4 separate regions of the Homo sapiens genome follow, and all the other regions are linked to region 2. The links come from fine-mapping of genetic effects on gene expression. A gene starts in region 2. Each other region holds a variant in brackets. All regions are shown on one strand. Distances are from middle to middle.

Evidence for each region.
Region 1: its variant is fine-mapped to the expression of GAS6-AS1 in whole blood (TOPMed, PIP above 0.99).
Region 3: its variant is fine-mapped to the expression of GAS6-AS1 in whole blood (TOPMed, PIP above 0.99).
Region 4: its variant is fine-mapped to the expression of GAS6-AS1 in whole blood (TOPMed, PIP above 0.99).

Annotation. Positions count from the first base shown.
Region 1 is chr13:113,836,568-113,844,105 of GRCh38, forward strand. It overlaps GAS6 (growth arrest specific 6), which reads right to left. Exons shown (of 15, transcript NM_000820.4): 5 at 3,161-3,283; 6 at 1,502-1,624. GAS6-AS1 (GAS6 antisense RNA 1) reads left to right here. Exons shown (of 5, transcript NR_044995.2): 4 at 1,510-1,680; 5 at 5,802-6,274. Among named protein-coding and RNA genes, the nearest start is that of GAS6, 24 kb to the right of the region's middle. RefSeq lists enhancers at 715-924, 1,033-1,585, 1,425-1,484, 2,140-2,692, 2,864-3,440. The variant T/G (reference allele first, on the strand shown) is at 4,551.
Region 2 is chr13:113,811,853-113,817,307 of GRCh38, forward strand. It overlaps GAS6-AS1 (GAS6 antisense RNA 1), which reads left to right and starts at 3,758. Exons shown (of 5, transcript NR_044995.2): 1 at 3,758-3,839. TMEM255B (transmembrane protein 255B) reads left to right here. Exons shown (of 9, transcript NM_182614.4): 9 at 1-5,143. The coding sequence ends at 51. RefSeq lists enhancers at 3,642-3,711, 3,762-4,001, 4,062-4,181.
Region 3 is chr13:113,759,431-113,766,968 of GRCh38, forward strand. TMEM255B (transmembrane protein 255B) reads left to right here. Exons shown (of 9, transcript NM_182614.4): 2 at 6,685-6,827. Among named protein-coding and RNA genes, the nearest start is that of TMEM255B, 4.0 kb to the left of the region's middle. RefSeq lists an enhancer at 14-515. The variant C/T (reference allele first, on the strand shown) is at 4,055.
Region 4 is chr13:113,845,112-113,852,649 of GRCh38, forward strand. GAS6 (growth arrest specific 6) reads right to left here. Exons shown (of 15, transcript NM_000820.4): 3 at 2,915-2,939; 4 at 1,416-1,478. Among named protein-coding and RNA genes, the nearest start is that of GAS6, 15 kb to the right of the region's middle. RefSeq lists enhancers at 3,363-3,986, 3,987-4,608, 7,333-7,538. The variant G/A (reference allele first, on the strand shown) is at 1,688.

The sequences.
Region 1 (7,538 bases), 26 kb after region 2:
GGGGAGGGGTGAGGGAGGGGGTGGGGAGGGGTGAGGGAGGGGGTGGGGAGGGGTGGGGGAGGAGGAGGAGAGGGGAAATAAGGATGGGGGAGGAGGAGGGGGAAAAAGAGGAGGGGGAATGAGGAGGAAGAAGAGGGGAATGAGGAGGAAGAAGAGGGGAATGAGGAGGAGGAGGGGGAGGAAGAAGATGGGGAGGAAGAGGGGGAGTGGGGGGAGGAGGAGAAGAAAGAGGAGGAGGAAGATGAGGAGGAGGAGGAAGATGGGGAGGAGGAGGGGGAGTGGGGGGGAGGAGGAGGGGGAGTGGGGAGAGGAGGAGGGGGAGTGGGGAAAGGAGGAGGGGGAATGGTGGGGAGGAAGAGGAAGATGGGGAGGAGGAGGAGAGGACGGGAATGCCTCTGTCACTGTGGGCAGTAACTGTGAGCCTAGACTTTGCCGGGAGTGCCCGACTGGTGCAGGGACCCACGGGAGATGCTTTAGACGTCATCTCTCAGGATCGGCCTAGTCTTCACCTCTCTTTAAACCTGGGGTGCTGCTGTCTTCCAGGTCAGGGATAGAGCAGTGATGGGAGGGGCTCTGTCCTCGGCGGGGAAATGGGTTTATGTGTTAAGATGGGAATCACGTCATCTGCACACAGGGCTAACTCCTGGGTGGTCAGGGAAGGGAACCACCAAAGTGGACAGAAATAGCAGCTGCCTTTTGAAATCGGGGGATGGGGTGTGGCCCCTCCTGTCTGGTCAGATTCACTCTCCAGATCCTGGGGCTGTTTCTCCCTGAGCAACTGTCTGTCCTGTCCACGCAGTTCGGTGTCCTGGACAGTCAGCAGCAGCGCTAAGAACTATGCCAGAAACTCTCAGGGACACGCCTGGGCATGTCCAGATACAACGTGGGGAGGGAGGAGGAAGGTGCTCCCCCTGCAAAGTGGCAAAGGGCCAGTGGCAGCAGCAGCACCTGGAACAGCGTCGGGGGCGCGCACATTCACAGTGACTTTCTGGGGTGTCCTGGGGCTCCCCAGCTCTGGCCCTGGGCTGAGGGAACCCCAGACTGAAATATGAAAGGAAGTGGGGAGGGCAGGGCTATATTTAGTGGACAGAGGGAGACCAACAACGGGGTGCTTCTGGGGATGCTGGGGAGAGTGGACGGCGGGGGGACCCTAGCCTGGAGCCCTGACCCACAAGCTCACTACACAAGTGCCTGGAGCACTTCCAGGCTCTGTGAGGCTCTGGGGAATGGACGAGGCCCTACAGCCAGCAGTGTGGCCTCATGGGCTGGGCCGGCCCCCTGAGTCCTGGCCCTCAGATGCCGGGTGAGTCATCCTGGTGTGGTGCCGAGCAGCTCCCTGTGCTGCGGCTGGCCTGGGCTTGTGTAGTCTCTGCAGGATGCCCCATCCCATCCAGAACCACAGGAACCCAGCCAGCAGCAGCCGCTTGCAGAAGAGCAGACATGACCGAAAATAGAAGGTGGGGAGAGGAGAGAGGAGAGAGGCCTCACCCCAGGGCCTTACCTTGGCAGGTCCTGCCATCAGAGGAGAGCTCGAAGCCGCTGTGGCAGGAACAGTGGAAGCTACCCGGCTTGTTGTGGCAGATCTGGAGGCAGCCCCCGTTCTCCTGGCTGCATTCGTTGACATCTGGGAACAAGCACAGGCCTGAAGGGGAGCCCAAGGGTGCACAGCCCCTGGCTACGGTAGGAAGAGATCCCAGAGGTGCACAGCCCAGCCCTGGAGCAGGGAGGGAGCCCAGAGGTGCACAGCCCAGCCCTGGAGCAGAGAGAGATCCCAAAGGTGCACAGCCCAGCCCTGGAGCAGGGAGGGAGACCAGGGGTCACAGCCTAGCCCCGGAGCAGGAGGAAGGGACCCCGGGGGTGCACAGCCCAGCCCTGGAGCAGGGAGGGAGCCCAGGGGTGCACAGCCCAGCCCCGGAGCAGGAGGAGGGGACCCCGGGGGTGCACAGCCCAGCCCTGGAGCAGGGAGGGAGCCCGGGGGTGCACAGCCCAGCCCCGGAGCAGGAGGAAGGGACCCCGGGGGTGCACAGCCCAGCCCTGGAGCAGGGAGGGAGCCCGGGGGTGCACAGCCCAGCCCCGCAGCAGGAGGAAGGGACCCCGGGGGTGCACAGCCCAGCCCTGGAGCAGGGAGGGAGCCCGGGGGTGCACAGCCCAGCACTGGAGCAGGGAAGGAGCCGGGGGGGTGCACAGCCCAGCACTGGAGCAGGAGGAAGGGACCGCGGGTGTGCACAGCCCAGCCCTGGAGCAGGGAGAGAGCCTGGGAGTGCACAGCCCAGCCCCCGAGCAGAGAGAGATCCTAGAGGTGCACAGCCCAGCCCTGGAGCAGAGAGGGACCCCAGGGCTTGGACCTCACACCCCACTCAGCAGCCCTAGCGTTTCATGGCCCCTGGTCCTGGCCTTGCGTGTGGAGGTAGATGGTGGGAGGGCATGGGGGATCCCCAGCTGCGGTCTCAGCCTGGGGAGCTGCTGGCAGTCACAGCCCACAGGGCTCAGCTCCCTGGATGCCCATGTGCTTGCAGGAGGAGGCTGCAGGCCAGGAGTGACCTCTGGGTGCCGAGGACAGACAAGGCCAGGCCAGAGCTGGCCACTCCTTAGCAAAGCCCTCCCAGGCCACCTGTGGGGTAGGATTTGCCAAAGGGGACAGGCTGGCCTGCTGGGCTCTCCACTATGGGTCTCCACCAGGCCCTGGAGCTATTCTTCCTCCAGGGTCTTCACTGACACCACAGGTCTACACTGAAGGACGGTCAGAGGTGAAATCTCCCCCCGGCCTTTCAATCAGTGGGTGCCACTGACACCACAGGTCTGCACTCAAGGACGGTCAGAGGTGAAATTTCCCCCCCGCCTTTCAATCAGTGGGTGCCACTGACACCACAGGTCTGCACTCAAGGACGGTCAGAGGTGAAATTTCCCCCCCCGCCCTTCAATCAGTGGGTGCTGAGGCATCACTTGGTGTTTCCTTTCCTTCCAGCCCTGCTCCCAGAAAGGAGACTGCAGCTCCTCCCAATTCTCCTGGGGCTCCAGGATACCTCAGGGCTGCAGCCTCCTTGGGGCTGTCGGAGAGCAGCCTGAGGATGGCCGTGCCCCGGAGTGGGAGTGAGGAGCGGGGATCAGGGCAGGGTCGGAGATGGAGGGAGACCCCGCCTTTGTCTTCAGCCTCACGTACCTTTGTCGCAGAGCCGGCCCCCCCAGCCAGCTTTACACAGGCAGAAGAAGTTGCCCATGAGGTCCTGGCAGGCTTGGGTCCCCTTCCTATCGCAGGGGTTGGGCGTGCACTGGTCAGGCAGGTCTGATTGGGGACACAAAGTGGAAAATCATGTTCAGCTGCCCCACCCCTGCGCGCCCAACGCAGCTGAGATCGGGGCGGCTGTGGGGTCTCGGGTCCAGCCCGGAGGAGCTCTGAGGGGCGCAGGCTGAGGCAGCCCCTGGGCACCCGAGCCCTCTGTGCTGGCCTAGGGCTGACAGAATAGGCTGGCGGGCCCTGGGGCCGGCTCCAGGAAAACTCAGATCAACTGGGAGGGAGTGCCAGCAGGCCTGGACGCAAGGTGGGAAGGGCTGAGGGCAAAGGAGCAGGAACTGCCTGGCGTGAGGCCTGGGAGCTCAGACCTCCCAGGGAGTAGGCACACAGAACCCCCAGCTGACCTGGGGGCTTCCAGGCAGACTCGGAACATTCTGCCTTCCCTGGCCAGCCCCTAGCCCATCTCTGGTGAACTCTCCCTGCTGGGTGTGGCGGGGAGGACCCCAGGCCCAGGCTGCACTGCCAGAGGGGTCCTCCAGGAAGCCCCCCTCTTTCTGCTTAGCTGCCCCCTCTCCACGTGTCTTGATGGCTTTAGGCCAGGTGTGTTCTGCCCTTTCTCAGGGTGGTCACCTGGGCTCAGCTCCTGCAGGGCCAGAGGTCAGGGGAACGGGTGAGGGCCTGAGGGTGGGAACCCGTGCCAGTGCAGCTGCTTCCCAAGCAGTCCCCCATCCGAGAAGCTGCTCACAAACACATTCATACGAGGAGCTGCTCACAAACACGCTTCCAGGACACGGACCCAAACCACGTCCCAGAGGCAGGCAGGGAAGCCCCCGACAGTGCAGTTACGCAAGCCTGAGCCCCGGGAAGTTGGCAGAAAGAACGACAATTACACCCGGAGCTCAAAGAATCCTTTCATGGCTGCTGGCAGAGCAGAAGCAGCTCGGGGCTGAGCATGGCAGTGCTCAGGGGCGCGGTCCACACTCAGCTCAGCCCCACATGAGGACTCAGCCACGCTCAGCTTAGCCACACAGGGCTCCGTGGGGAACCCTGGGTAGGGCCCCCCTGCTGGCTGAGAGAGGGCTCCGGTCCATTGATTCCACACAAGTTCAATAAGGACCAGTCCCTGGGAAAAGTGCAGGCCGGGCCAGCAGGGCCCTAGGGCACTGGGCCAGCATCGTCCTAAGGGGTCAGCCCTGGTGGGGGCACGTCGAGTCTTCAGTGCATGGGCTCTCACTGCCAGCGTGTCGCTTCTGTTCCTGAGGCTCCCAAGGTGACGTTTCCCACCAGGTCTGTAGAATGTGGCGTTTCCACCAGAGGG[T/G]CTGGGCTCGGCTGTCAGTGCAGGAGCCGCTTCCATCCCCACCTGGCCGGGGTCAGGGGTGCCCGGTGCCAGGGTGAGCGGCGGGCGGGTCTGTGGTTCACAAAGCTGAGTTCCTCCAGCTCATCCAGGGCTTACAGTCACTGCCTGTGGCCGGCACAGACACAGCCCCTGTCCTCCTAGGCGGGTCCAGGCACCGCGCTCACCAGAGGCCCTGGCTACGAGTCCCAGGCTTCTTGGGGAAGCTGCCCAACCACACTGGCTTCTTTCTGCGACGCTTCGCCGTATGCCTCACAGCGTTTCCTCCGTATGCCTCACAGTTTGCTCCGTACACCCGCGTTTCCTCCGTATGCCCCAGTTTCCTCCATATGCCTCAATTTCCTCCATACGCCCCACAGTTTCCTCCGTATGCCCCAGTTTCCTCCATACGCCCCGGTTTCCTCCATACACCCCACAGTTTCCTCCATACGCCCCACAGTTTCCTCCATATGCCCAGTTTCCTCCATACACCCCACAGTTTCCTCCATATGCCTCAATTTCCTCCATACGCCCCCCAGTTTCTTCCATACACCCCACAGTTTCCTCCATATGCCCAGTTTCCTCCATACACCCCACAGTTTCCTCCATATGCCCAGTTTCCTCCATACGCCCCCCAGTTTCCTCCATACGCCCCACAGTTTCCTCCATACGCCCCACAGTTTCCTCCATACGCCCCACAGTTTCTTCCATACGCCCCACAGTTTCCTCCATATGCCCAGTTTCCTCCATACACCCCACAGTTTCCTCCATATGCCTCAATTTCCTCCATACGCCCCCCAGTTTCTTCCATACACCCCACAGTTTCCTCCATACGCCTCAATTTTCTCTGTACGCCCCACAGTTTCCTCCATATGCCTCAGTTTCCTCCATACGCCCCAGTTTCCTCCATACGCCTCAATTTCCTTTGTACGCCCCAGTTTCCTCCATACGCCCCAGTTTCCTCCATACGCCCCAGTTTCCTCCATACGCCTCAATTTCCTCTGTATGCTTCAGTTTCCTCCATACACCTCAGTTTCCTCCGTCTGCCTCACAGTTTCCTCTATAAGCCTCAGTTTCCTCAGTACACCCCACAGTTTCCTCCCTACACCTCCGTTTGCTTGTTTTGCACAAATGACTGACAACAGAACACTTGTGGGTGTGGACGGAGCTCGCGTCTCGAAGTGTTTCTAAGATGCTATTTTCAGCAGGTCACTATAAACGCTTTCTACTCTGAAGCACACAGGGGCTGGGGCTGGCCTTCGGAGTTACGAGGAAACGAGGACCAGGACCAGGGATTCTGCATCAGCACAGCCGCCAGGAGCCGGCCGGGGCCCCATCCCTGACACTGCTGTCGCCCGGCTGTACCTGGGTGCTGTGTCCGCGGGGCGTCTGGAGACGTCGATGTGGTCATAGCAGGGCCTGGAACGGGGAGGTCTGGCCTGAACTAGAGAAATGAGGGGCGTATCCGCTTCTCCACCCTGGCCTCAGATGAAGAGGCTCTGGGGGCAGGAGGGAGTCAGACACGTGCAGGGCAGGCGGCCTGTGCAGGGCCCAACCCTCCGGCACCAGAACCTGACCTCCTCAGAGGCCCCCACCATGGAGGGATGTCTGGGGGATGCTGTGCGCTGCCGCTACGATGTTTGGTTAGAGATTAAAGCCATTTCAGAAGTGGACACCTGCCCATGTGATGCAAAGGGCTGGGAACCCGGTCTTGACTTTGCCTGGAATGCCTTTCGGAAAGACCTCTGTCCCTGAGGCTGAGGGACAGTGCCTGCTCCTGCCAGGTGCCCAGCTCTTAAGCGGTCCCCAGACTCATGCCACCTGCCCCGGGGCCTCCCCCAACTCATTTGTTTATTTCCCTGTTGGGAATGTATTGATACCTCTAGGATGCAAGGACGGAACCACACCTGAGGGGTGGACAGTCAGCCGGTGCCCAGCAAATATCTGTGGAATTTCCTCCACACAACAGGGAAAGCGATGGAGACAGAAACCTCTGCAGGCCCCCGAGGGCACCCACTTCCCTGACCCCGTCCACCTCCCTGACCCCCGCCCACCTCCCTGATCCCCATCCCGCAAGCTGGGCCTAGGGTATCGGTGGCCTGGCTGGTCATGCCCTGGGCGCCAGCGCCTGTTCAGGAGGTGAAGGGTTTATCTCAGCTTGGCCCATGACTGCGTTGAAGGACAGGAGGGAGCGGCTGTGGCTGTGGCTGGAATCTGAAGCCGGTGCGGGCGGCCAGGGCCTTTCCCTGGGTGGTGACGAGCGAGGACCAGAGCCCTGTCTGCCCGAGGGAAGGGCGAGGGGACACTCCCCGTGGCGGGGGTGGGATCCCGGTAGCCGGGGCTCAGTGACCGCTGCCTGGGCCACCGCCTGTGGGGACCTGACCTTCCTGGGGAAACCCATGGGTCAAAGGAGCCGAGAAATCCAAGCACCAAGTGGCCGCTATGGCAGGACGGGCGCGTTCGCAGTGGAGAAGCTGGGTGTGTCCGTGGGAAAGGAAAGAAATGGAAGCAGAGGCTCTTCAGGGGCACCTGGGAACGCAGCCTACACTCTTCCCAGGCCTCCTCCCTCCGTCCACTGTGCCGCCTGGGTCCTGGGACAGCCTGAGGGCCGCAGGCTCCCATGCAAGGCCCGCTGGGGGCCTGCTTGTCTGGGGCTGAATTTGGACTTTATGGGGCTATGGCTTTAATTTCACAATGACCGATAACCAGTGAACTGAAGCCAGGACAGCACCGTGAGCACCAAGTCAGAGAATTTTCACGAGGGAACCAATGAACAGGAACAGAGTGTGAGGCTGCCCCAGCTGCATCCTCCGGGAGGCGCCTTCCCAAGGGAGTGCAAGGCTGCCTGCTGTGGCCAGGCCACCAAAGCACCTTCTTCACCGCCAGGCATCTTTTGAGGCACGCGAACATCAGAGGCCCCAGCCACGTGCTCTGGAGGAGAAGCTGAGAGCCCCAGGCCACAGGCAGGGCAGC
Region 2 (5,455 bases):
GCACCCACCTACTTTCCCCCGGGGGAGAAGCCACCCCCCTACGCACCCTGATAGAGGCGTGGAGTAAAAGATAACTTGTTTGTTTTTTTTTTTAAAAAAAAGGCAGCCTCTAGAAATCCCGCTTCTGTGGCCAACCTCCTAGAGAACCCGGGAGAATGTTCCAGAAGTCTGTCCCCTCCTTTCCTCCCTGGGCACACTGGTGAGGGAGGCTGGAACCAGGCAGGGAGTGGGGCCCTCCAGACCCAGGCTGGTGACACCTTGGCTTGGGCTCTGCTCACATCAAATGGCGCTGAAAGTTCCCACCCGGCCTCCTCCTCTGAGAGCAATTGTTCTGGTGTTTTCACATCCCTTAATTAATTAGCTATTATTATGATTTTGCAAAGACAGTGCAGCCCCGGCCTCCCTGCCTGTGTGTTCTTGTTTGTGGACATGTGTTGTGCGTTACACGTTCGTGTGTGCATCTGTGTCCTGGAGAAGCGCAGGGCAGAAGCCACCCGCCCCTCGTGCTGTGCTCCTGACGTATGCCAGGAAGGGAAGGACGCTTCGGCTCCAACGCCCAGCGCTGTGTCTAACCGCCTGTGAGTTGTTAGAATCCAGGGGCCCGGTTGTCTTTCCCAGCCCCGGATGCAAATCTGCCTGGGCCACTGGCACGAGGGTCTTCCCCTGAGCTGTCTCCCAGCTACGGCGCCTGGGCTTCCGCTGTCCTTCCGCGGCTTCTCCCTCACCGCACCTTGTCTCAGGACCCCTGGCCGCTGGGATGGTGGGGGACGGTGTTTCGGGGTCCTTTGGCTCAGGGTCTGGGGCCGCAGCACTCCCTGTGGAAACCAGCTTAGCTCCCCGCGGGCCCAGCATGCACCTGCCGGGCACACCTGGGGAGACGGGTGAGCACGCCTGGGAAGCAGCAGGTCCCGGGTGGGTCACAGGCCCCGGGTGGGTCACAGGACAGGTCTCAGGTGGGTCACAGGTCCTGAGTGGGTCACAGGTCCCGGGTGGGTCACAGGCATCCCGGGTGGGTCACAGGTCCCGAGTGGGTCACAGGCCCCGGGTGAGTCACAGGCCCCGGGTGAGTCACGGGTCCCGGGTGGGTCACGGGTCCCGGGTGGGTCACGGGCCCCGGGTGGGTCACGGGTCCCGGGTGGGTCACGGGTCCCGAGTGGGTCACGGGTCCCGGGTGGGTCACAGGCGCCCCAGTGACAGGAGTTCAGGATGCGCCACCCCAAAGTAGCCGAAGTCTCTTGAAAAGTGTTGGATGTGGGGAGAGGCTTTCTCTGAACTCCTGAAGTCAGATCCTCAGGGAACCAGGGACTCCCAGGGCGGGAGGGCGGGCGAGAGGTGATCCCATTGCTCCCCAGACGTGCCACAAGACACCAAGTCGCCGTCTCTGCTCTGTGGGCCGCTCACGGTTCCCCAGTCACTCCCTCTCCCCTCGGAAGCTGGCGCCTCCAGGCCTCACCGCTCTCAGGGCCTCACGTCCCTCCCTGCAAAGCCCCCCGTGCCTACGATAAACAAGTACCGCTCTTCTCCCGTGTGGGTCTGAGGTCTCCAGCTTACTTCACGGAACAGTGCCCACCTGGGAGGTGGAGCGGGGACTTTCTCCCCTGCCCAGTCCTGGATCTGGGAGAAAAAAGATAAGGTGGAGGGGAGCCACACTCGTGCAGACACAGCCTCCTGCCCCCTCTGCTGCCCGGGAGCCTCCCTCTGTCCGATGGAGGGTCTCACACAGCCTCTGCCCCCTCCGCTGCCCGGGAGCCTCCCTCTGCCCGACGGAGGGTCTCATCCTGTGTCCAGCGCTCCTGGGCAGAAGGCCCACAGCGCACATCCACACATGAACGGTGGCTGGCTGGGCCCAGGGGCCCTAACGGGCCTCTGAAAGGCCTGCAGCCAGCTCTGGTCTGTGAACCCGCCACTGCTTGTCATTTTTATCTTATAAAATCCAGCCTCACAAGCTTGCTGTCCAGGAGAATGTGGTCTTGGCCTCTCAGGGCTGACTGGCCTTGAACCAGTCCGGGAGGTCGGGCACGAGCCGGAGGTGCGGCGTCCTGTCTGGAAATCACCGCCCAGTTCCTCCAGGGCTGTGGGTGCCTGGCTCCGAGTAAGAAGCTGAACAAGCAGCAGAGACCAAGAGGTTTCTGGAGCGCCGGGAGATGCACTCACGAGCGCCTGTGGGGGAAGAAAAGTGTGCCACGGATTTCCCGAGTCCCCAGGGCTCTCACTTTACCTCAGGGAAGGCTCTATGGGCGCCGATGGTGCCGTGGTCTTGTGTGGGCGGTTCCTGGGCACCCTGGAGCTCGGGCTGTGCCCCCGAAGCTGCCTGGTGCAGGCACCAGCACCTCTTGGTGTCCTAGGGGTGCGAACAGCAGAGAAGCTGAACTGCAGGTCTGGGCAGGGAGTCTATGCCCCCTGGAGCTCTGGCCAGCAAAGTCACAGGAATAACCCTCCTTCCCCTCATGTCAGCCCTCGGTCGCAGGGTGCGGTGTGGGGGCATCAGAGTGCTTCCCCGAGGCTGCACTCACCAGCTTCCCCCAAACACAACATCGATCTTTCCCGACTTTTAATCTTGTCTAGAGTCAAAAGCTGTTCAAAAATATTCAACTCCAAGGTCAACAGTTTTGTTCTTGCCACAAAAATGTCCTTATCCTTTATCCCAGCCACAAAGAATGTGAACAATTTGACTCAAGGTTCGTGGTGGCTGGAGGGTCCCCCAGGTCCCAGGGCAGCTCCCACCTGGCGCAGGGCTCCGGCCAATGCCTGGCCTGCAGTGTGGGCGGCGGCTGCTCTCGAGGTGCACCTGTCTCATGTGGACGGATCCTGTCTGGGGCCACCAAGCTCTGCCAGCCTGAGTCACGGTCTGATGAACCCCCTCTCTGGGCTCCGCTGGGGCCTTCTGATCCCAGCCTCCTCTGCAGGGATGGGCTCCCAATCCCGCCCTCACTTGGTTCCCATGCACAGCCGAGGTCAGTGAGACCCTGGAGGCCGCGGGAGATGGGGTGGAGGGGATGGTGGGGCAGGGGGTGCTGGGGGGTTTGGGGGTGCTGTGGCCCCGGGGCAGGGGGTGCTGGGGGGTTTGGGGTGCTGTGGCCCCACCTGCACTCCCTGCCTCACTGGGACAGCACAGGAGACAGGCTTCTCCTGCAGCTCAGAGGTGGGGGCCTAGTGTAGCTGCAGGTTGTGACTGAGGAGGGCAGGGTCAGAGCATTGCCCTGGGCAGGGGTCCGTTGAGACTGGCCCCACCTTATTAGCTTGGGACCTTGGGTTACAGGGAGTCTCCTCCTGCCTCAGTTTCTACATTTCACACAGCAGCACTGCTCACAAGAGCTCCCAAGCAGAGGCAACTACTGAGTGGGGGAGGGACACAGTCCGTCCACATGGGGCCAACGGCCACAAAGAGAGGAAGGGACATGGGTGACGGTCCGTCCACGTGGGGTCACCGGCCACGGAGAGAGGAAGGGACATGGGTGACGGTCCGTCCACGTGGGGTCACCGGCCACGGAGAGAGGAAGGGACATGGGTGACGGTCCGTCCACATGGGGTCACCGGCCACGGAGAGAGGAAGGGACATGGGTGATATGGTTTTGCTGTGTCCCCACCCAAATCTCAACTTGAATTGTATTTCCCAGAATTCCTGCGCGTTGTGGGAGGGACCCAGCGGGAGGTAATTGAATCATGGTGGCTGGTCTTTCCCGTGCTATTCTCGTGATAGTGAGTAAGTCTCACGAGATCTGACTGGTTGATCAGGATTTCCGCTTTTGCTTCTTCCTCATTTTCTCTTGCTCCTGCCGTGTAAGAAGTGCCTTTTGCCTCCCACCGTGATTCTGAGGCCTCCCCAACCATGTGCAATTGTAAGTCCCGTTAAACCTCTTTTTTTCCCAGTCTCGGGTATGTCCTTATTAGCAGTGTGAAAACAGAATACTACAGTGGTCCATCCACACGCGGGTCTCACCCAGCCACAGAGAGGGAGAGGACGTGGCCCATCCACACGCGGGTCACCCGGCCACGGAGAGGAAGGAAGCTCTAACGGGTGCTGAGGCTGTAACACACAGTGCTCAGGGAAGGACACCAGACATGAAGACTGTGTTCTGTTTATATGCAGTGTCCAGAGAAGGCGTGTCCACAGACAGAAGCCGACTGGGAAAGGAGGTGCAGTCACTGCTCAGGGACACGGGTTCTTTTCGGGGAGGCAAGCGTGTTCGCAGCGTGTTCTGTATGGGGAGAGATGCAGTCACTGCTCAGGGACACGGGTTCTTTTCGGGGAGGCAAGCGTGTTTGCAGCGTGTTCTGGATGGGGAGAGGTGCAGTTACTGGTCAGGGACACGAGTTCTTTTCGGGGAGGCAAGCGTGTTTGCAGCGTGTTCTGGATGGGGAGAGGTGCAGTCACTGGTCAGGGATACGAGTTCTTTTCGGGGAGGCAAGTGTGTTCTAAGCGTGTTCTGGATGGGGAGAGGTGCAGTCACTGGTCAGGGACACGAGTTCTTGTGGGAAGAGGAGTGTCCGGGAGCCAGATGGCAGTGATGGGTGGACGGCCCCGTGGATGGACTGACCACCGACCCATGCTCTGCACTCATGAGGCGTGGCTATTGCTGTGTGAATCACATCTCCATGGAAACGGGAGTGGGAGAAACGGGCCCCAAGGATGTTGTGAAGATGGCCTTATGGGGCTGCACTGGTGACTTGGACAGTGCTGGCCACCGGCCCTGCTCAGTGAACAAGAGCCATGGTCATCACCCTCGCCACACAGAGCAGCTCCTCCTGCAGACTTGGGGACCCCGTGGCCACCAGACCCCGCGGTGGGAGCAGAGATGCCTCCGAAACTCTGGAGACCCACAGAGGCAGAAGAGGATTCCACGAGGCCGGGGCCCGTCAGCAGATCCTCAGACGGCGACACGCGCCACTTCCTTTTCTGTTTCCTAGACCTTTTAACTGATGGAATTCAGTAAGCAGAAAACGTGCTTGAAACAAGGGCACCATGGAGCGGACCCTCCCCCTCTCCCCTCGTGGAGTCCTTGACCCTGGGGCAGGTGACCCTTCTTGCTTTGCAGGCAGGGGCTGTGGCTGGAGCTTCTCCTACAAATGGGCTGTGCTGGGATTAGCCCGGCTGTACATTTGCTTTATGCTTCCGTTGGCATTTAAAAATCTGATGTTCATATTTGCCGTATTACGTGAAGTAGGACGAAACGTTCCTTCTTGCTTAGAGCAGTGTTTCCCCAGAGGTGCCCGGGCCCAGGGGACAGTGGCCAACCTCTGGAGACATTTCGTGTTGTCATGAGGCTGGGTGTCCAGGAGGGGGCGATGCTGCATCTGCTGTGCACAGGACGCGGCCACATCAAAGGACCCCACCTGCAAAACACATGCCCAACCTCCTTCCTCCTCTCCAGCCCAGAGTCAGGGCTGTCCCCCCTCCCTCCAGGGGACACATCCCCCCTCCCTCCACGGGATACATCCCCCCTCCCTCCACGGG
Region 3 (7,538 bases), 51 kb before region 2:
GGGTCTGGTCCCTCCGCCTCCTTCGAGCTCTGTCTTTGGAACACTTTGCATTTCGCACTGGGGTCGGGCGTTCGTCCTACCGGTTCGTTCATTCATTCTCTCTCCCTGTCTCTCTCTCTGTCTCTGTCTCTGTCTCTCTCGCTCTTTCTGTCTCTGCCTCCTCAGTCTTTGCCTTTCTCTGACTCTGTGTCCGTTCCTCTTGGCCTCTCTCTCCCTGTTACGTTTTATTATGAGGAACAGGCGCCCCAAAGTGCGCTCCTTCCCCATCTCTTCCGTTTATTCCAACCTACACCATTTTCCGGGAAAACTTCGTTTGGAAGAGCGAGGTAGCCTTTTCCTGTTTGAACGTGCAGAGGCGCTCACAGAACTGGACAGTGTTGCTTGGTTTCGGCTCGCCCCTCTCTCGTGTTTCTCCCCGGTGTGTTCACGGAATCTCCAATTCTTCCACTTCCCAGACCAAGCCCGCTGCAGCCTCGGAGCCAGGCAAAGGCTGGGAAAACAGGAAACCTGTTGCGTGTTCACCAGTTCGCAAGCCGGGCTCGGGGGCTCTGCCGGGAAGTGGCCAGGACTGGAAGGATGCCGGGTGTCTTCCTGAGGGGGAGAGGGCTGGGCAGATTTCAGAACAAAAGAGAAACAGAGTTCCCTAGAAAGTGAAGCCCTGACGGCTGGAGGGAGGGATGGAGTGGTGTCTAGGGGGCTCTGCCGCTCCCTCAGAAATAATCCAACACAAACTTCTGGGGATTAACCTCACAACCCTTTTACTGCGGCATCGTTCGGAACCGGACGAATTACTGTTACTTAAAATAATCAAATAATTTGGCTTCTTTCTAAAAGAAACCACTATATGCCTTCCAATCTAAAGCAAAATGCTCTATGGTCAAATGTATTAATGTGGATTAGTCTATTGGTGTTTAATAATGATAACTATTATTATTATTTATTAACTAGTTTTATCATTATTAGAATGCCTTAATGTTTAAAAATAGCATCTGACTTAGATTTTCTTCTGACAAAGAACTTTAAACCTTAAAACAATACTTGGAGCTGGTCTTTTTAGTATATGAAACATTGGTGTATCTGGGTAGGATTATGGGTCTTTTTGTTTGGAGCTGGTCTTTTACTAAAATGTATAAAGCATTGGTGTGTCTGGGGTTGGATTATGGTCTTTCTGCTTTGGTGTGTCGGGGTGGATTATGGTCTTTCTGCTTTGGGGTATCTGGGGGTGGGTTATGGTCTTTCTGCTTTGGGGTATCTGGGGGTGGATTATGGTCTTTCTGCTTTGGGGTATCTGGGGGTGGATTATGGTCTTTCTGCTTTGGTGTGTCTGGGGGTGGATTATGGTCTTTCTGCTTTGGGGTATCGGGGGTGGGTTATGGTCTTTCTGCTTTGGGGTATCTGGGGGTGGATTATGGTCTTTCTGCTTTGGTGTGCCTGGGGGTGGATTATGGTCTTTCTGCTTTGGTGTGTCTGGGGGTGGGTTATGGTCTTTCTGCTTTGGTGTGTCTGGAGGTAGATTGTGGGTTTTTCTGCTTTGGGGTATCTGGGGGTGGACCATAGTCTTTCTGCTTTGGGGTACCTGGGGGTAGGATTATGGGTTTTTCTGCTTTGCCCTTCTTTGTTCACTACCCTGGGCATGTGTAAAATCAGGACGAAAGAGGAATTGACGGCTGAGTGATTACAGTTTTACCTGGGATTGTTACTTGGACACCATGACTGGTGTCCCCACATGATTAAATGGAACTCACTCTTCTTTTTGGGCGTTCCAGGTCCGGCTGGCAGGAAGGCCGGATCTTAGAACCCTTCCAAGCAGTGCCACCTCCCATGCTTTGTGACATTCCCCTTCCTGGCTCTGTGGAGTAGAGGAAATGGGTCTGAGGGGCAGGAAGAACCTGACCTCCAGCCTCGCGTGTCTTCCAGGTAGGACCTGGCGTGGGCACAGGCTCATGTGGTTCAGCTCCTCCAGCTAAGGCTGGGGAAGGAGCCAGGAAGGGGAGAGCAGGTGGGATGGGAGAAGTGGGGGCTGGTGGGGAGTGACAAGGTGATATTCTGAGATATCCTAGATGGGCTGCACCTGGGGAAGACTAGAATTAGAAAAATCAGCGCACTTGATAGCAGAGAGGTAGCTGTTGGCCCCTTCAGCTTCACATCTCAGAACTCCTCCTTGCAACTCCAGTGGGAGAAATGCTGGTTAAGAATAGCCGCTACGCCGTCTTAAAGTTCACACCACCCTGATGATTAGCATATGCATTCCATTTACAAAAACCTATATGAGAGCCCACGTATCGTGTCTCACTGGACGCTTATCACAATCTCAAGAGGTGGGTGAGCAGGTGGTTCTCATGATTTCCATCCTACAGGTCAGGAGACTGAAGTGCCTTCATTCATTCCGTACCAGGAGATGTGTCTATGTCCTCATCTGAGCCCCGGGAACCGGCGACAAACAAGAGACAGAGCTCTTGGCTCTCATAGGGTTCTCTTCTCCCAGGCTCAGGGAGATTAAATGGCCGCCCAAGACCACACAATGGGTCTGGACAGACCCAGAATGGTTTGGGTCCAGTCCCTGTAAGCTGCCTCTGCAATAGAAACCTATTGGTAGATATTTTAATTAATAGTTGGGGCACTTAGGAGCACTTTAATTTTCACAGTGCGTGTAATAACAGTATTTCCGGGACAGGAAAAAAAAAAAAATCAAGGAAATTATTCAGGTGATTTTAATTATCTTTCTCCTAAGTGAAAGCCCCTTTCTCTTGAAAATCTGACCTTATAATTATCTCTTATGCTAATTATAAAGATATCCCACCTTCTTTTCTTGAGTTTATTTTTTTTCTCATTTTTATGCTGTGTCATGTATTTATAGAATGTGTTTAAGGTTGGGAGTCTTCTTTTTGTTATCTCTATTATATCTGGAGTCAAAATATCACCATTGTGTAATTGAATGAGATGATTTGCAACCATTGCTCCCAGTGCCCCATGTAAGTTCTACTGTCTTTCTAGACTTGTATAATCTAGGAATCTGTGATAGGAATGCTGATAAAAGGGTGGCTCATACCTTCTGCTTTTTATTTTGTAGCAGATGGGGGGGAAGTTAGACTCAGGAAAGAGGGGTAAACATAGCAAAGTTAGGTTGAAAATGGTTTGTAGGAGGATTTACGTGGTTTCAGAGGAGATGTGTCTAACTCTTCGCATAGTAATTAACAAGTCAGCATGTTACCGATTGACTTGACAAGGTCAGTTAGCCCAGTGGGTCTTGCTGGGCCCCCACTCTTCATGCCAAGGAACCGAGCAGAGCTTCCAGCTTTAAGAACCAGAATCCAGTCACAGGGTTCCTGACAGACGGACGCCCACAGGAGGCTGGGACAGGAGCCCCACGGAAGGTTCTACCTGTGGGTCGAAGCAGACGCTGAGTCATCTGGTTAACTATTTTGAGCATAATATTATATGCATGCAGTGCATTTAATTAAGAAAAATCGCACAACAAAATCCTTTGAGAAGGACAGCGTTTGTCTGATAATTTTCTCAAATACTTAGTCCCATAAAATTTAGTTTTAGAAATTGTATTGCTCTTAAAATACATTTAAACAGTCAAAAGATTGGAATGGGAGCCTAAGGAAAAGCAGGAAAGGCTGAAGCGGGAATTGTGTGAGTTGAAGGCACCTAGCATTTGGCTGCATTGGCAGGTGTTACATGGAGGCTGGTGAGGGTGACCTGGAGCCTCTGGTCATGATCAAATGAGATAAGGAAGTTAGGCTGCTCTGAAAATCGACACACAGCCCAATCCATAGATGGTGTTATTATCATCAATATGATTATTTTGTGTAATTCCACAATAGCTGTTTCATTAACTTCCAAAATGTGGAATTGCATATATTTTTAAATTTTGTGTCCATTTTTAAAAAGTTTACCTACCTTTCTAAAACGAATCAACCAGAACGGAGTTTCACCCACGGGAGGTGCCTGCCTTCCTCTTGCCCACTTGCTCCCAGCGTGGGTTTGCCGTTTCTCACCTCGACTTCCCGACAGAGACCCGGGATCTGTCGCCATCGCTCCTGTCTCT[C/T]GGGCAAACGACCGTGAACATATAACCTTTCAGGTTTTTAACAAATTGCAAGATTTCAGTGAAAAAATTACTATAAAGCATTGTGGTCCTAATTTAAGAAAAAAATGTTTTAAAAAGTACATAGTGCATTGAAAAAAGACCATAAGATTTTATGCCTACTTGTTAATTTAGGTTACCATGAATTTTATTTTCCCTTTTGCATTTTTCAGTACTTTATGAGTGTTCTACAAAAAATCACTCTGCTCTTCTGAGCAGCGTAAAAATCACACTTTCCAACATATACCCACTGTCTCCCTTTTCCTTGTAAGAATGTCGTTATCATCTTCCCAACCTTTTCCAGTCCAACGAGGGTTGGCTTTTAGTTCAGAAATACCATGAGAGACACAGGGAAGAACTGTGCGAGTTAGAGGTGGGGAGGAGGAAGGAAGCCTGAGGCTGAGAAGCGAGGGACTGAGAGGCGGAGCTGGAGGAGGCCTTGGGCCGTGTGTTCCGGCTGGCAGGTGCAGCGCCCATCCCCTCATGCAGGGCAGGTGTCGGGTGCCTGGGCCTCGGTCACTTGAGGGGAGTGTCCTCCCCATCCAAAGACAAGAAAGGACGTGCTCCATGCACACAGGAAGGCAGGTGTGGCCTGGGGTGGGATGGGCCGGGGCGTGGGCGTGGGACACGGGGACACGGGTTGGGGCTGGGGGAGCATGACTTTAACAGACACTGGGTGATGGATGTGTAGGTGCCAGGTCCTGGGCCGCCAGTGTGGCCTTGGGGCTCCTGGTGCTGTGCCCGCCCCTGCACCCACCTGCTTGTCACCCCTCTAGGTTTATTCAGTGTGACCCCTGCAGAAGCTGCCTTGGGGACCCGGAGGGCGCAGGTGTGGCCCTGGCTGCAGGGACCCCGAACCCCAGGGCGTGTTCCTGAGGCTGGGTGTGGGGATTGCTCCCTGGCCCGCACCGGGCTGCGGCCTCTGGTGTCTCAGGAGGGTGGCTTTCAGAAGGAGGGCCTCACTCCACACCAGTGGTGCTGGGCTGAGGGGTGCACTGTGCCATCACCAGGCCCCTCAGGGAAGGCTCTGCCCTCTGCCCGCTGCCTGTGGGTGACACATCCGGAGCGCCCTGTCCCCAGCCCTGCTTAAGTTTTCTCCACTGAACTTGGCCTTTTCCAATGCCTGCAGCGTGTGCCTCTGTCTGTCTGGTGTCCCCTCTGCCTCTCACATGCGAGGATGCTCTGCAGGGGCAGGGGTGAAGGGGCAACTGTGGAGAGCACAGGGGTGAGTGTGGCTACTATACTCAGTGTGTCTATGCAGCAACATGTAAGAGAGGCCTTCAGGGAGTGCTGCGAGTGTCTAGCTGGAGACAGCAGGTACAAAGGCCCTGTGGATGCTGCAACAAGCCTGCCTCTAAGGAGGCAGGAGATGGGGCAACCAGGGAGAGGCTGAAACCACTGCCTGCGGCCTGGAGTATAACACTAAGGACAGTGCCACTGGCCGCCTCGGTGCAGTGGGTCCAAGACGGGGGCAGCCTGGCTGGCTGGTGGGAGCCGATGGTTTATTACATTGGCGAATGGAGTGATCTGGTCCCCTCCAAGGTGGAAGGTAAAAAGCGATTTAGGATGAGATTCTTGGGACAAGTGTATCTTTGCAAGGGTCAAGAGGCAGGCAGGGTGCTGTGCCGGGGGCTGTGCTGAGTCCAAGAGGGCCTTGAAGGAAGGCCGTGACCAAGGCCACGCCCTTGCTGGGTCAGCTGGATAAAAATGACTCTCTCAGATCAGCAGAGCAATTCTGCATCTGCACATTGATTTATAGTTTTGTGAAACTCATTTCTGAGGATGTAACAATCCCTTCCTTGGGTGCGATAACCTTGCCTTGCCATTGAGCTCTGCTGATGGGATTGCAGAAGTGTAAATCTTCAGATGCGGACCTTCTAGGGTGTGGACAATGTCTGCACGGCCGTCATCGCTGCCAGCGGCTCTCCAGTGTGCGGTCTGCTTTCCCTGCACACACGCACTTACACATGTGCACACACACAAATGTTGATTTTCAAACTCTTGGAGTAGGAAGACCTTACCATGGTTTTTTAAATCCCCTATTTTGTTTGGAGTCACACAGGGATCAAGATGATTCAGTTTTCAAAAAATAAAGCAAAACAGATGGCACAGCTGGATGGCTGCTGTGTGCGTTCCTCTCTCCCTGCCCCTCCCCTGGTGGCAGCCCCCTCCCCCACTGGGTGTGGCTGGGATAGGCGGATAGAGAGGGTGTGTCTGTGAGCGAATGGTAATGATAAAACAGTAAACAAAAGATGCTCCTGTCCTCCTGGGGACACCAGGGGGAGAAAGTCAGATAGAGGAAGAGGCAGCCAATAGGAAGGAGTCCTTTCTAGTTTGCTTTCTTGAGTTCTGTGACAGTTAGAATTAGGTTTGGCCGCAAATACCAGGCTATCCAGTATAGTGGCTTATGGTCCAGAGATTTTATTCTGTTATCTAATGGAGGTTGGGGGTGGTCCCCTGAGGTGGGCCTGGAGGCAGGCGGGGATAGTGCATCCCAGGACCCCTGGGTAACGGAGCACGGCCCAGAGCCTGCTGGCCTGACGCCCTCCTGAGCCTGAGCCCTCACTGACAGGTCCTCGCCTTCCTCCCCACAGAAGGGCTTTCGAGGAGGAAGAAGACGTCGCTCTGGTTTGTGGGGTCTCTGCTGCTGGTGTCCGTCCTCATAGTCACCGTCGGGCTGGCTGCCACCACCAGGACGGAGAATGTGACCGTTGGGGGCTACTACCCAGGGATCATTGTGAGTGCGCCGGGCGGGCGGCCTGGGCCGGGGAGGGCAGGGTGGTGTGTGGCTCTCTCAGGGTGGAGTCCACGCCAGCTCACAGGGCTGGGGCTGAAGGTGGGGAGGCTTCGATCAGTGCTTGTGGTCGGCAGGGTTATGGCCCCCACAGACATGCACTTCCCAATCCCCAGGACCTGGGACAGTGGCAGGTCCAAGGCAGAGGGGAATTGGGGTTGAGGTCCAAGTTGATCTCAAAATAGGGCCAGGTGCCCTCCATTGTCTGGGTTGGCCCGATGTGGTCACAGGGTGACCAGAGGGCAGGAGGGGGGCCAGAGCCCGGCAACAGGAAATGTCCAAGGTGGAGGAGGGGCCAGGAGCCCAGGATGTCCAAAAAGGCCGGACAGAGCCTCCCCAAGCATCCTGGAAGGATTTTACCCTGAGGGACCAGGTCGACCACCATAGCCCATGGAAGGGGAAAGTAACTTTAAACGATTCCTACCAAGAAGCCGTGGGTCAAAGATCGTATTAGTGACGTGATCGCGTGGGAACGGCCAGAAGGTGGTGGTGCTGACCTCATCCACCCGTCAGGCCAGATTTTGAACAGTAAGGCGGCGAGGTAAATTGATGGTAACCTAATTGGCAAGAATTGGTCACCCAGATTCAAAAGTATCAAGGTTTTTTGAACTATGAAATTACATCCTCTGTCGTTAGTAAAAGAATTCTCCTAAG
Region 4 (7,538 bases), 34 kb after region 2:
CCTGGCTACTGTGCATGGTTGCAGGTCAGGGCAGGCCGGGCCACAGGGCAGGGCCACCCTCCCATTCCCATGTTTACACTGAGCATTTCCTCTGCCTGTGTCTCTTGGGCTGGGGTCTGTGATACAAGTCCGGGAGGCCAGAGACGCCCACGGACAGTGCGTGGGGCTTGGGGAGCGGGACTGAGCCACCTCTGACTCCTTCTGCTGACTGGGATCCAGCTCCAAAGCCATGCCTGGGAAGAGACTCCTGCCTCTCCCAGGATGACTCCGTCCCGCCACGCCTCTGCTCTCAGCGCCCACAGGGACTCACCAAGCTGGACTTTCATCTAAAACTAGACACACGTGACGCCAGCGGACCACAGACCCAGTGCAAGGGGAGCTGTGTGGGTTGTGCTGAAGGTATGTTAAAATTCATACAGGACACCCAAAACAATCAATCTTATTGCATGATAATTTTAAAATAATAAAAAAGACTTGTGGCAAGCTGAAAAAATTTTTGATAACTTTACTACCAATGGCTAATGTGCAAACTCCTACAAATTGAGAAAAACAGGCAAAAAATATAAACAACAGTTTATAGGAAAAGAAATACACAGTTTTTAAACCTATGAAGGACAGCTTTACTCATTAGTTAAAAAAAAAAAAAAAAACCTGAAATGACTGATGTCATTTCTCGCCTGTTACATTGGAAGAGATCAAAAGTTTAAAAAAACAGTTCATTCACCCCTGCAGGGGCGGAGGCTAAGGCTGGCTCTGGGATAATTTGGCAGTATCTGTATCCAAAGGAAACATGAGGACTGCCTCTGCGATTCCATCCTTGGGAACGCATCCCGCAGACACTCAGACGTGTGGGAGGCAACAGGTGCATGAGGATGTCACGCCAGTTTTGTTTAAATGATGGAAATTGGAAATAACCTGGACATCAGCCAATATGCATGGGCTAAGTTCATATGATGCACCGGCTGGAAATGCCAGCGTGAAGGTGAGACACGCTAAGAGAGGGTCTCCTGTGCAGACAGAGTTGCAGAGGCACGGGACAGACCGTGTGTGCTAAGCCGCCACGCGTGTGAAGAGCGGAAGGCCGCTCACACATGTTTACATGTCTAAGCACAAGATTCTTGGAACTGTAACTACGGTGGTGTCTGACTGGACGACTCAGAGGCGGGGATGGGCTTTCACATCACACTCTGTGAAACATTTACATTTTGTTCCATGTGCATTTATTGCCTATTGCTAAAAACGTCAAAATTTACTTGTTTAAAAAAGAAAGTTTGGCGAAAAGGGAGCAGGCCTCGGCAAGGGACCACAGCTCCTTAAAAAACAGAACTATTCAGGGCCCTCCACAAACCACAGCCAAGCCTAAAGCCGCCCAAACCCACAGTGCTCCCAGGAAGGCGCAAAGGAGGCCGACTTACTTTGCACGCAGGTGGCGAAGCCTGAGTTTTTGGTGTACGGAGACCCATACTTGTTGATGCAGTCTGCAGGAAGAAAGGGAATGGATGTCAGTCATCCTTACAAGACCGGATGGACTGCAGAGCCTCTGCTTCTGAGACGCTCTGGAGAGGCAGTTACTCTGCTTACCTGGGGTGCTATCATCCTCCAGAAACAATGCCGCTTAGCTTGTGTTAATAAAAAACATGTTAGCCCCAACCCTGACAAACAGGAAACCACCTCCACCAACTCAGCG[G/A]AGTTGTGCACCCACAGTCAAGTGCGTAAAGCACCGCCCGCCGTTTCGAGGGGGCTCCTCCTGCCATACGGGAGAATCACCGGGAATGCTCAGTAAGTTCCTGACGGTACTCGAAAAGCTAAACTTCATTTTCCAGTGGACCCCCATTGGGAAACGCTGTGCTTAACTGGAAAGCCACTCTGCTTTGGAGAAAGCCCCTCCATGCTCTCTGGCTGGCTGAACACAGCTTGACAGCAGACATCCCGCTAGGGCGGCGGGGGGAGGCGAGGCCTGGCACATGCACATCCAGGGATAACCCGAAGCGTGAGGTTGTGCAGAACGGTGCGGGGCCTCTCGACCTGGCCCTTCAGTGGGTTACTGTTGCTTATCCAGGCGCAGAACGGCACGGATGAACAGCGGAAGGCCTCCTGCAGGTGTGCTGTGGACCGCTGGCCACCCCCTGCTTCAGAACTCAGTCCTCGCTGGTGCCTGGGCTTTCTGGGCCAGTGCCAGACCCACTGTGTTTGTTCCAGATATGGACCCAGGGAAGGACCCTTTAAGAGGACATTTACTAAAATGCACTTTGCAACATTAAAAAGAAGACCCTGGAATACATTTCTCTCCTTCTAAGTGAAATGCTCTCAAAGAGCTCTAAGATGGTGTCAGTTAAACGGGCTGACCCGGGGTCTCTGGGTTTCACTTTCTTGCTGTCCTCCCTTCCCAAGTGTACAGTGGGGGTCTCCAGAGGCCGCCCCACATGCACCAGCTGCTCTGATGGCTGAGATAACGTCTGGCATTCCCGTTCTTCAAATTAAACAGAAACACTATTCAGTGTTTTCGGTTTTAATTAAGAATACGGTAAATATCAGTCAATACAGCCCACATGAACATGGACCCCTTTGGGGTCCTCAATGACTTCAGAAGTGATTAGTGCTGAGGTCAGAAAACCGGAGGACAAAATCAATTACACGTCCTGACAAGGAGCTGAGCCTGGCATCAACTCAGAGAAGGGGTTTGCAGATAACAGCATTCACCTGAGGTTCCACTAACACGGAATAAAGCTGTGGTATAAAATAAAGAGAGAAACTTGTGTTTCTGACCTGCATGTTCCGGACAGTTCCACGTGCACCATGTGATTAAGAATCTTCCTTCCAAGAGTTACGTGGTGAGGAGATTCCTCCAACATGAAACACGCACCCCCAACTATGCCTCTACGACAACCAGAGTAGAGAAGTAATTGAGACTTACCTAAGTATCTTGGGTAAAAATAATCCTGTGGAAAAAGAAAAAGAAAAGGCAAGCATTGACCGGCACACTACGAGGGTCTCTGAACAACATAAGCATCAGCTGGTTAATCAGAGGCTGCTCTCGGGGCAGCCAGAGGGCCGCCCCACCCGGGGAACTGAGGGGAAGTGACCGGGGCACGACTGCTGTGAGACCAACAAGCAAAGGCAGGGCCATTTCCAGCTGCGTAGGAAGTGCTACCAGGTGTGTCCAGGGGAGAGGCCTGCCCAGGAGGACAAGAATGCTTCCAAGTAAAACCCCACTCTTAGTTCCCTGTTGACATAAGGGTCTCTAAAACCCAAAGACCTTAGTTCCCTGTTGACACAAAGGTCTCTCAAAACCCCAAAGACCTTTCTTTTGGCACACGGGCATTGATTTGCACTTATAGTATTGGTGAAACAAAATTGGTACTGGGTGAGGATGGAGGCTGTAATGAAGGGTCTTCTTATCCATGAAAGCGCACTGACGAGGTCCACATTCGACACAAGTGAGCTGTCGAGTCCTGGAACCACCTGCCTGTCACTTGGCCAGCAGAGGCCGGCCGGAAACTTCTTCAGGATCCTTTTGCCATGGCCCACAGATTCTAGGGCCACAGCCTGGTTAAAGCAGCCTCCAATCTCCAGCTTAGGGTCAACCATGCCAGCAGTTTGGCCCTAAATGCTCTAAACCAAGAGACCACAGTCATGGCAGAATAGTCCCAGCGGCCTCTCCATGCTGGGTATGAGTCAGCATTTTTACACTATTTTATGAAATCCTCACAAATAACACCCAGGAAGGTCTTTTTAATCCCATTATCAGGAATGAGGAAACCCGGCTTCAGGATGGTTGTGGGATTCACCTGGGGGCATGAAGGTCAGGATTAGCAGGCGCTGGTAGCATTTTGCAGAGTAGCAGACAGAGGCGGTAGGTACCCAGCGCCGTCTGCAACGCGCCTCTGGCTTCATGCGCTGGCTCTGCATGGCCTTTCTGCCTCCTTCCCACCTCTCTCCCACACTTGCTGGCCTTGCCACACCTTTTGTGGGAAGAGCCTGGAGGCCCCGCCCCAGCCTTGCCAACACCCTCCTGAGGCCTGCTTGGATGTGTTTTCACAAAGTTGTGTTCTAGGAAAGATGGGATGCTCTTAAACTCTTACTCCCTTAAGAGAAAGGAAGGGTCAGGGTGAGCTGGTGTGCAGCTCACGTGTCTGTTGGGAGGGCGGCCGCCCTGAAGGCCAGGAGGGCTGCAGACCTGGAACACACACCCTCATGCCTGCCCTCATTTCTCTCACTTCCAATTTTAGTCATGGGTTGGCAAACTCCAAGAAAAGGCAAGAACAGCCATACCAAGTGAGCCCTGGTGGAGTCCTGGAGCAACACGAAGTGGCACCAGGTTTCTAGGCTTGGAAGGAGAAGGGAAGTGATGGGGCTTTGTCTCAAAGCAGGAGGCTCTGGCTCTGAAATAAAAGACTTGCGAGGGATGCAAAAGGTGTCCTTTCAGGTTTAGAAGCCAGGGATTGAAAACAACTAAGAACTAGTGAGCAAACGGCCTAACTATACACAAATGCTTGCATTACCACAGCTTTACAGCAAGTGTGTTCTATTTTTCAAAATCAAGACTAGTCATACTACTTAATGTGTAATCTGTATTAATACCAAGTTTTATTGTTGCAAAAAGGCATTATTCATGGAAAAACTATGCCAATCTCCTGTCAGTTCGCCACACCTATGGGAATGGGGTTTCTGAAACCACAGGGTTATAGCCCTGGGCACTGTATCCTAATTTGCATGTTTGATTATTTGAGACAGTAATGGAGGCAGAAAGCATATGCTAATTCCACCGGCAAACTAGGGGAAAGATGGTTAAACCATGAGCAAGAGAAAAGCTAAGATGAATAAACCTAAAAACGCTATACACTCCTGAGAGAAAGAAAAAGAGACATTTCACATTTTCCTGAGAACATTCTGGTACACACTCCCAAGAAAGAAAGACATTTCACGTTGTCCTGAGAACATTCTGGTATACACTCCTGAGATAAAGACATTTCACATTGTCCTGAGAACATTCTAGCCAAAGATGTAAGACCCAGAAATGGCTTTGAGTAAAGGCACCCAGATAAGCTCCCTGACCTGCAGAACCAAACACAGAGCACTTTGTCCTCAAAACCCTCCCACCCCTGTCTGCACTACTGCTTGTTCAGGTCCATAAACCTTGGCCTGAAGCCCTGCATTAGCCATATCTCCAGAGCAGCACCCCCAGGAGTCCCCATGGAGCAGAGGCCACCACTCAGGAGGCCGGAATTTAGAACCAGGAGCTCCTTATGTACACACTGACTCTCTTTCTTCTAAACCTAGGAAGAGCAAGACCTATGGTAATGGGTTGGCGTGCTGGGGTTAGGTGAGGGCAACAGGGGGAAGAAGCTGGGATTCCCAGGCTGGAAATGGCGCCATTTGGCCCCTGGAAATCCTTTCCCCGGGGATCTGCTTCTGTTTTATTTGAACAGCTACAGATAAAAATAAGTGAGCAAACCCCAAGCCACTGCACTGTTAGCTGAAGCTTCAAGAGGAAAAAGACAACATCTACCTGCCCAGCACCGAGCCTGGTGCTGACTGTCCCCCAGAGGCCTCATGAGCCGTCACCAAACACATGGATGGATGACAGATGGACAGTGGATGAGTGCGTGAAAGAATGGATGGGTGAATAAATGAGTGGATGGGCAGATGGATGCATGAATGAGTGGGTGGATGGATGGATGAGTGAATGGATGAATGACTGAACAGATGGATTGATAGATGGATAGATGGATGGATAGATGCATGTATGGATAAATGCACAGATGAATGAATGAATGGATGGATGAGTGAATCGGTGGATAGATTAGTGAGTAGGATGGATGAGTGAGCAGACAGATGCATGGATGGATAAGTGAGTGGATGGGTGAATAACCAGATGAATGAATGAATGAATCAGTGGATGAATGAGTGAATGGGAATGAATGAATGGATGAGTGGATAGAGATGGATGAATGAACAAATGAATGAGTGGATGGATGAGTGGGTGGATGAAAGAATGAATGAGTGGGTGGATGAGTAAATGAATGGAGATGGATGGATAAATGAATGAGGATGGACGGATGACTGAGTGGGTAAATGAATAAATGCGTAGATAGATGGGTGAGTGGATGGATGGATGGATGAATGAATAAAACAATGAGTGAATAGATGGATGAGTGAGTGTATGAATGAATGAGTGAGTGGGTGGATGAGTGAGTGGCCAGATGAGTGAATGAATGAGTGGGTGGATGGGTGAGTGAATGGATGAATGAATGAAAGAATGAGTGAGTGGGTAGATGAGTGAGTACATGAATGGATGAGTGGGTGGATAGGTGAATGGATGGACAGATGAATGAATGAATGGGTGAATGAGAGTGAGTAGATAGATGAATACATGAATGAATGAATAGGTGGGTGGGTGAGTGGGTGGGTGAATGGATGAGTGAATGGGTGGGTGAGTGAGTGGATAGATGAGTGAGTGGGTGAATGGGTGACTGGATGGATGGAGATGGATGAATAAATGAAGGAATGAGTGGATGGATGGATGAGCGAGTGCATGGATAGTTGAATGAATGAGTGGGTGGATGGGTGAATGAATGAATCAGTGGGCAAGTGCAAGGGCCTGCAGTTTTCACTCCCACAGAGCACTGAATGCTCAGTTTCACTTAAATCATAGATAAGTACTTGGAAGAAAAGTCAAAATCAATGCTCCCAGTCTGTTTCTTTTAATAATATGGAAGTGTTTGTGCTGTAATTCCTCAAGTTTACAAACCCCCACGTGATTTTAAAACTTACATCCTTGTTATTAACTGACATCTGCCAAACCCACTCTTCTAGGTGGCAAGCGTGGTGCCCACTGCACGGAGGATGCAGCCATTAGGTCTCTCGGAGGTTTGTGTGCTTTGCTGTTCCCGGCAGGGACGACTTGGAGGGCAACAGCCTCCTGGTCAGTGCAGGGCCCCGTCCCTGGGTGAAGCAGGGCAGGTGCTCGGCCTGTGCTCCCGAGGCTCTGGCGCAACTGTGAGTGGCCCAGGATGGCCATGAATGCAGCCCAACATAAATTCGTAAACTTTCTTAAAACATGAGCTTTAGGCACAGACCTTCTTTTTAGCTCATCAGCTACTGTTAGTGTTAATTTTATGTGTGGCCCAAGACAGTTCTTCTTCCAATGTGGCCCACGGAAGCCAAAAGATTGGACGTCCCCGTGCTGGGGGTTCCGGGGCTGGTCGAGGCTGGGAGCCCCGTCTGCAGAAGGTCCCGGTGTGAACAGTGGAGCCGGTGCCTCCTCTGACGCCTCCCTGACTGTGCCCGTTGCCCTTCGGTTTCGTAAGCATGGAGGAAACTGAACCTGAAGCAGCTTGGAGGGAGCTGAGCCCCAGGACAGGAGCCTGGTCTGGCTGGGGTCTAACATGAGGCCCCAAATTTGTTATAAAACTACAGAAAGTGTCTGATGAGTAGATGCCACCTCCGGACCCTGGCATCCGCCTCTGCTGCCTTTGCTCTGCTCAGGAGGGCAGTGGGTGCCGGCAGAATCCATGGGAATTGGTGCAGTGTCACAA